2 linked regions of the Homo sapiens genome follow. The protein of the gene in region 1 interacts with the protein of each later gene in a pairwise test. Each region holds a gene or a part of one and is shown on either strand. Other genes may lie near its edges. The genes, in order: TRPC4AP and TAB1.

Region 1 (3,810 bases):
CCCAAGCTTTCTTCTAACCCTCATAGCCACCCCAGGAACTGAGTATGGAAGTCGTTGGCCCCTTACTACCTTTGGAATCAATGGATTTCTCAACCTACTGCCCCTCTAAAGCAAGAGTGGACAGCGTGGCTATTCCCAGGGGCCGGCAGGAACTTCAGACAGGCAAAGCCGACTGCTTACTGAGCAGCTGGAGGATTCTTCCCTCCACAAGGAGGTGTGCTCCCATTTTTCTTGAAAGACATTCTGCGCTCATTTATTTTTTAACCTTCGATGGAGAATGTACAAGGAAAATTACTCTCTGCTGTAAGGAAAACAGTGCAGGAAGGGGGTGACTAGCAGCTGACCCTTGACCTTGGCATTGGGGAGGTGATGTGGGGACCTTAGTGAACAAGAATTTCAGTGAGCTCAGCTCCAGCCAGCTGCGTGTGCACAGGAAACTGGGCCCACTGTTGCATAACTTCTGATTTTTTCTGCCAAGCAAAGGCAGAAATTAAGATTTATGTGAAAGGTCCTGATTTTAAATGTTGGTTTAAATATTTTAAAAACCTTGCATTTGAGCTAACAGAACATGCCTGGAGACAGCTGTGGCCCCAGGGCACCTCCATCATATGCACCCATCCTCTGTGAGAGGTTTTCCGGCTGAAAGCCATAGAAGGGCTCCAGGAAGCATGTTAACCTTCTGAAAAATGGCACCACATATGTTATGGAACTGTGCTGTTTTCCCTGAGGAAGTGAGTCTCTGGCTTTCATCAGACTCTTCAGTCTGAGTACTCTGTGGGATATCAGGATGAATGCAAACAGCCATGGCCCCTGCTCTCATGAAGGGCAGAGTCTGAAAACAGAGACAGTTGTTCATCCAAGGATTCCACCGTTGAGCATTAGTGATAAGTGGAGATGGTATTCAGGAGGAGAGGAACGGGGTCTGTGAGAGACATTTGACAGGGTCCAGGACTGGCCAGAGGACACTCAGGAACTCTCCCCTGCAGAAGTGGCTTGCCAGCCAAGACCTGAAGTGTCAGCTTGTAGTGAATTGAGTGAACAGGCATGTGAGAGGGTGTGTGTTCTAGCCAGAAGCCCCTGAACGAGGGAAGACCATTGTGGCCAGCTGATGGGAGTGATGTGGGCTTGGCTCTGGGCTGGGCTGCACAGGACGTTGTGGGTCACAGTCACAGGGTGTTGTGGGTCACAGTCACAGGCCTGGATTTTATATACAGATGGTCCACTTAGAATTTTTCAACTTCACAATGGTACAGAAGTAGAATTTTGAATTTTGATCTTTTCCTGGGCTCATGATAAACAGTTCAATACTCTTGCAATGCTGGGCACTGAGCTGCAGCTGCAGCTCAGAATGTATTTCAAGAAAAATGGTGACCAGCTACACGATCACCAAGGTAGACAACCAGTACTCTGTGCTGTGCCTGCCGTGTTGCCAGTGATTATGGCCAACTGTAGGCTGAAGTCAGTGTTCTGAGCACATTCCAGGTAGGCTAGGCTAAGCTAGGAGGTTCAGTGGGTTAGATATATTAAATGTGTTTTCTTTCTTTTTCTTTTTTTCAAGACGGAATCTTGCTCTATTGCCCAGGCTGGAGTGCAGTGGCATGATCTTGGCTCACTGCAACCTCCACCTTCTGGGTTCAAGCAATTCTACCTCAGCCTCCTGAGTAGCTAGGATTATAGGCGTGTGCCACCACGCCCAGCTAATTTTTTATATTTTTAGTAGAGATGGGGTTTCGCCACGTTGGCCAGGCTGGTCTCGAACTCCTGACCTCGTGATCCACCCGCCTGGACCTTCCAAAGTGCTGGGATTACAGACGTGAACCACCGCGCCCGGCCTCAATATGTTTTCAACTTAACGGCATTTTCAAATACGATGGGTTTATCAGGACATAACCTCCTCCTAAGTCAGGAAATGTCTGTTCTAAATGCAGTGGGAAGCTGTGGAAGTGTTTTCACCGGGAGTGACAGGATCAGAGTCCTGATTCTGAAGATCACTTTTGGCACCGTGTGATGACTCAGTTCCTGTGGGATACCTTTTAGTAAAGGGAGCTGGTGTCCTGGGAACACAGGACCCAGCAGTGACAGGCCTGGATGGCAAGTCGGGGGAAGTGTCACAGTTAACCAGGCCTCTGTGTGATGTGTGACCGTGGTGCTTGGTGGGACTGCTGCAGCAGGGCCAGGCTTGAGTGTGATTGGACCTGTTGAGGTGTTGGTGCCTTTGAGAAAACAAGTGGAAATGTAGGCAAAGAGAAAGGCCCAGAGCTGCTGAGGGAAGGGGCCTTGTCGATGAATGTGGCAGGCAGGGGTCGGGGATGGGGGTGGGGCCAGGGAGAGATTCCACTGCCTGAGAGCCCAGAGTTCCCTCCTGCAGGTGCTGGCTGGAGTGAGAGGTGCTAGAGGAAAGTGCCTGGTGGCTTCTCAGATTCTGTCCACAGGAAGTGGGCAGGAGACTCCCTACACTAGCCTGGTGCTGACCCAGCAGCCCCAGTTCCTGTCCTTTACCTCCTCCAACCCATTTTGTTTCAGGAACAAGTACTTGTTACTCAACAACCAGGAGCTGAATGAACTCAGTGCCATCTCTCTCAAGGCCAACATCCCTGAGGTGGAAGCTGTCCTCAACACCGACAGGTGAGTGCAGGGGTGCAGCTTTTCCCTCAGCCCATCCCGGCTGCCCACGTTCCCCGGGGGCTCACCGGTGAGCACATCCAGGTATGCACGCGTGTCCTCTCTCACATGCAGCTACAGTGTCCTGAGGGCTCCTGTGTGCCAGGCATTGTATTCATGTCACCTGCATTTTCTCATTGGAGCCTCACAGCAGCCCTAGGAGGGGAGCCCCATCAGTACCTGCACTTGACAGATGAGGTGAGCCTCAGAGAGGTCACCTGCCAGAAGTCATGTGTGCTCCGCACTGCCCCACCGCCTTGTCTCGTGCATTCAGCCCCTTTGCTTATGTGCTCCTTTCTTGCCTGGTGGCATCTGCAGCCAAGCAGGACAGACAGAAGCCTCTTACCTGCTGCCAAGTGTTAGGTTGCATTACCTGGGTTAGGTTTGCCTCACCTGGAGCCAGGCAGTGGGGGGCTAGTCTCACAGGCGTCAGAATACAGTGGACTTTATCCAACAAGAGCCATGATTTCCCAACCTTTTTTGTTTGTTTGTTTTGTTTTGTTTTTTAGACACAAGGTCTTGCTCTTTCTCTCAGGCTGCAGAGCAGTGGTGTTATAGCTCACTGCAGCCACAAACTTCTGAGCTCAAGTGATTCTCCTGCCTCAGCCGCCCGAGTAGCTGGGACTACAGGTGTGCGCCACCATTCCCAGCTAGTGTTTTTACTTTTTTTTTGTAGAGATGGGGTCTCACTATGTTGCCCAGGCTGGTCTCGAACTCCTGGCCTCAAGTGAGCCTCCCAAAGTCCAGGGATTACAGGTGTGAACCACCTCTCCTGGCCTCCCAATCTTTTTTTTCTAAGGTAGCAGAACTCTTCATTCAAATAAAATTGTACCCAGTCCTGCCCTGATGTCTGCAGTGGATCACAGCAGAGCTGCTCTGTTTGAAGGGCCCAGACCCCTGCGTGCCTGGCCGTCTTCCTTCCCCCATGACGGGGCCAGAGTCATTTCCTCATCTCCTGCCTTTGCTTCATAGACTGGGAAGCTGAGGCTTGGAGTTGTGGACACTTGCCCAAGGCCAGCTGGAAGTGAACCTCAGGCACGGAGTACGCTGGGCCTCACCCTATTGGCAGAGTCTTTCCCCATCTGGCAGACTGGCATGACCTGTTTCAACACACTTTTGGTATAAACAGCTCTCCTCTGGCAGTTCTAA
Region 2 (3,810 bases), on another chromosome or scaffold:
TGTCCCCCTAGGCCTTCGATGTGGTGGAGAGGAGCTTCCTGGAGTCCATTGACGACGCCTTGGCTGAGAAGGCAAGCCTCCAGTCGCAATTGCCAGAGGTAATTTCCCCAGCCGACACCCAGGGGAGTCAAGTCCAGGCCCAGCTTTGCAAGGAGCATGGACTCATCTACTTTCTTGACATTACTGGGCCAGAGCAACAGGCGTTAGGGAGCAGTTCCTGATGGGTGACACTGGTGTGTGGCCACAGGTGAGGGACCTCGCTGCTCTGCTGTGGGCAGCTGCATGCTAAAGCTCAGCAGTGTCTGGGCAGTGGTGGACATGAGGAAGGGCTTTTCCCAGTCCTTCGTCCTGAATGGGTCCCCGCCCTTGTCAACCACCTGCTCACATCGCCTACTGCCACCTGCAGCGCTTACCTCTGTGCTGTGAGTTCGGTCATCTCCAGCTTTCTGGAAGAACCTTAGCCTGGAGCTGTAGCGAAGGCTTCATCTTGGCTGTGCCATGGACCATCTGTCTGTCTGTCCCCCGGGCCCTCGGATCTTTGCTCTTAAGAGCAAAGGGAGGCCGGGCATGGTGGCTCACGCCTGTAATCCCAGCACCTTGGGAGGCCGAGGCGGGCGGATCACAAGGTCAGGAGATCAAGACCATCCTGGCTAACATGGTGAAACCCCGTCTCTACTAAAAATACAAAAAATTAGCTGGGCGTGGTGGTGGGCGCCTTGTAGTCCCAGCTACTCTCGAGGCTGAAGCAGGAGAATGGTGTGAACCTGGGAGGCGGAGCTTGTAGTGAGCCGAGATCATGCCACTGCACTGTAGCCTGGGGGACACAGCGAGACTCCATCTCAAAAAAAAAAAAAAGAGTAAAGGGAGTGGAGAGGGCTAGGAAGATGGTCCAGAGTTCTGTCCTGCCCTGACCCTCTGTTGATGGTTGTAGGGAGTCCCTCAGCACCAGCTGCCTCCTCAGTATCAGAAGATCCTTGAGAGACTCAAGACGTTAGAGAGGGAAATTTCGGGAGGGGCCATGGCCGTTGTGGCGGTCCTTCTCAACAACAAGCTCTACGTCGCCAATGTCGGTGAGCCCCCTCCTGTCCCAGGGCAGGGAGGACTGGGGAGAGGTCAGCCACAGGGGTCGGTGCATTATTTGACAATCTGCTTTCCAGACACTTCACGCACTTTAAACCCAGGGTCTCCTGAGACCGTTGGGTATGTCCCTCTCCACAGTGACGCCTCAGTCCCAACTGGAAGGGAGAAAGGACGGGATGGGAGACAGGTGTCCTGGCCTTTAGTCCCTATTCTGCTTCTTAACTCATTCTGGACGAGTCGTATCCCATTCTGGGTGGCCTTGGGGGCCGCTGCTTCTGGAAGAGGTTACCTGGCCATGAATAACCAACCAGTATCCCCATGAACAGCTGCGAGATGGGGCTAGGTGACAGGGACATTGGGGTTTGTGAGAAGACCAGACAGGTGCAGGTTTCAGTAGAAAGGACTCTGTAGAGACCCTTCTGATGATGCTGCCTTTTTTTAATACTCCAGTGGAAAATTTTCCACAATATAGAACAATAGAGTGACTGATATTTAATGAACATTCATGCGCCCATCCCCAATCCCAGCAGTTATCAACTGTGGCCAGCCTTCTTTGTCCCCACGTTCTCTATTTTGAAGCAAATGCCAGACACTGTATCATGTTATCTGTAAATATTTCAGTCTGTATCTCTAGAGAAGAGGTCTGTTTTATTAAGATCATAATCCTATGATTACACTGAAAAAGTTAAACCCAATTCTTTCGTATCACCAGCTGTCCCTAACTGGTGACTCACCCCGTTGGTCTGAGCCTGTTTTGCCCATTTCAGGTATTTCCATGTGTGAAATGCCTGCCTTTTCCCTCTCTGCCTTCCCGGTATGCCCTATTTCTCTCTGTGTGTAGTCTTTGCTTAGCTGTTCACATTCTGCCACAGGTACAAACCGTGCACTTTTATGCAAATCGACAGTGGATGGGTTGCAGGTGACACAGCTGAACGTGGACCACACCACAGAGAACGAGGATGAGCTCTTCCGTCTTTCGCAGCTGGGTGAGTGGGGAGAGTGGGAGCGGAAGCTGATCCCCATGGGCTCACCCTTCGCCTGCCTTTGGTGGTGGGGTAGAGAGGCGTGTGGTAGAGGGGCTGTGATCTTGGGCTCCCCAGCCAGCCTGCCTGGGGTTCATTCCCAGCACTGCCGCTTACTGGTTGGTGATTGGAACTTAAGTTTTCTGTGCCTCAGATCCCCCGCTGTGTAATGAGGATAATAGTAACCTACCTCGGGATGCTAGGAGGATTCAGTTAGTGCATGTGAAATGCTTCCTGGAGTGCCTGGCACACAGAAGACACTTACTGTTATTGGTGGAGACTGAAAGAGGCCAAAGAAGTCCAGGGAGCCCAGCTGCTGCTGAGCTGCTCCTTCCCTTCCCAGTGAGCTCCAGGCAGATGTGGGGCACACGGGATGGGCAGGGAGACGGCAGGCAAGCTGCTCCGTGCCAGGTGGTGCCTGGAGGACGGGCTCTGAGTGAGGTGTGTCGTGATGGGCGTGGGGACTGAGGACACCAGGGACTTTGGGTCAGCTGCTCTCCCAGGTGCCCTGGTGTTGTCTTCATTTCCTATTCAGTGGGTCCTTATTGCCTTCTTCCCATGACTGTGTCTCTGTCCCCTTCTTTTTGTTCCTCTTTGTGAACAAGAAGCAGGATTGTTGCACTGTTTCCCTCCGTAGGCTTGGATGCTGGAAAGATCAAGCAGGTGGGGATCATCTGTGGGCAGGAGAGCACCCGGCGGATCGGGGATTACAAGGTTAAATATGGCTACACGGACATTGACCTTCTCAGGTAGGTGCCAGCCCAGCTGTCCCCTGTGCTTGAAAGAACAGAAGGTCCTAGGGAGGCCAAGATGGGAGGATTGATTGTGCTGGGAGGTCGAGGCTGCAGTGAGCCGTGATCATGCCACTGCACTCCAGCCTGGGCAACAGAGCAAGACCCTGTCTCAAAAAAAAAAAAAGGTCCAGAAGGCCTGGGGCAGACGCAGACTGTAGGCCCCAGTGACACATGTGCAGTCAAAGTAGTTCAGAGCCCAGGCAAACTCTTTCTTCCTCCCAGAGAGGTTGGTTTGGGGCAGGTTAGGCCCAGCAGGCCAGGAGTTGGGTACTGTAGAAACAAGGGGTGGAGTTGAGCTGGGCCAAAGCTGAGGGCAGCAACTAGTGCCACAAGGGAGGCAGGCGAAGCCAGAGTTGGCATGGGATGGACAGACCAGGCCTGTTGGTCGGTGCTGCCCATGGCTGCAGCAGAGGTGTGAGATGAATTGTGTATTTCCCTCTGAGGACACCTCCTCTGGACATCACCCCAGCGCTCATGGCAGCAGAATGGGCAGTCATCATCACACGGCCAAGCCCGTGCAGAGCTCTGGATGTACCTTCTTTTATGCATTCCCTACTCAGGCCCCCTGAGGCAGTCACTGCCATCACCCCAGAGGCATTTTCATAAGAGGAAACTGAGGCATGGAGACATCAGGCAGCCCACCCTGGTCATGGGGCTTGAACACAGGCAGCCTGAATTTGGAATATGTGTCCTTAACCGTCAGGTAACCTGTATGTGAAGTGTTGGTTGGGGAGATAGGCGCGTCCACTTGCCTGATGCCAATCATGGCATTTAATGTCATGGCCAAGGCTGTTCCCAAAGCCAGAGTTCCCATCAACAGAGGCCTCATGGCCTAGAAAGTGCATGTTAGAACTCCTTGCCCTCACGCGATCTAGGCAACTGAGTGTCGAATATTTGTCCCTAATTTGTGGGGT

What was found.
Region 2: the proteins of TRPC4AP (region 1) and TAB1 interact in a two-hybrid assay, tested with the Homo sapiens proteins (one large-scale study listed by BioGRID and IntAct).

What each region holds. Positions count from the first base shown.
Region 1 is NC_000020.11:35,009,002-35,012,811, reverse strand, and holds part of TRPC4AP (short transient receptor potential channel 4-associated protein), read left to right. Parts: intron 1-2,523; coding exon 2,524-2,625; intron 2,626-3,633; coding exon of another isoform or gene 3,634-3,646; exon of another isoform or gene 3,647-3,753; intron 3,754-3,810. UniProt on the Homo sapiens protein: Substrate-recognition component of a DCX (DDB1-CUL4-X-box) E3 ubiquitin-protein ligase complex required for cell cycle control.
Region 2 is NC_000022.11:39,416,780-39,420,589, forward strand, and holds part of TAB1 (TGF-beta-activated kinase 1 and MAP3K7-binding protein 1), read left to right. Parts: intron 1-11; coding exon 12-98; intron 99-931; coding exon 932-1,070; intron 1,071-1,952; coding exon 1,953-2,066; intron 2,067-2,739; coding exon 2,740-2,851; intron 2,852-3,810. UniProt on the Homo sapiens protein: Key adapter protein that plays an essential role in JNK and NF-kappa-B activation and proinflammatory cytokines production in response to stimulation with TLRs and cytokines.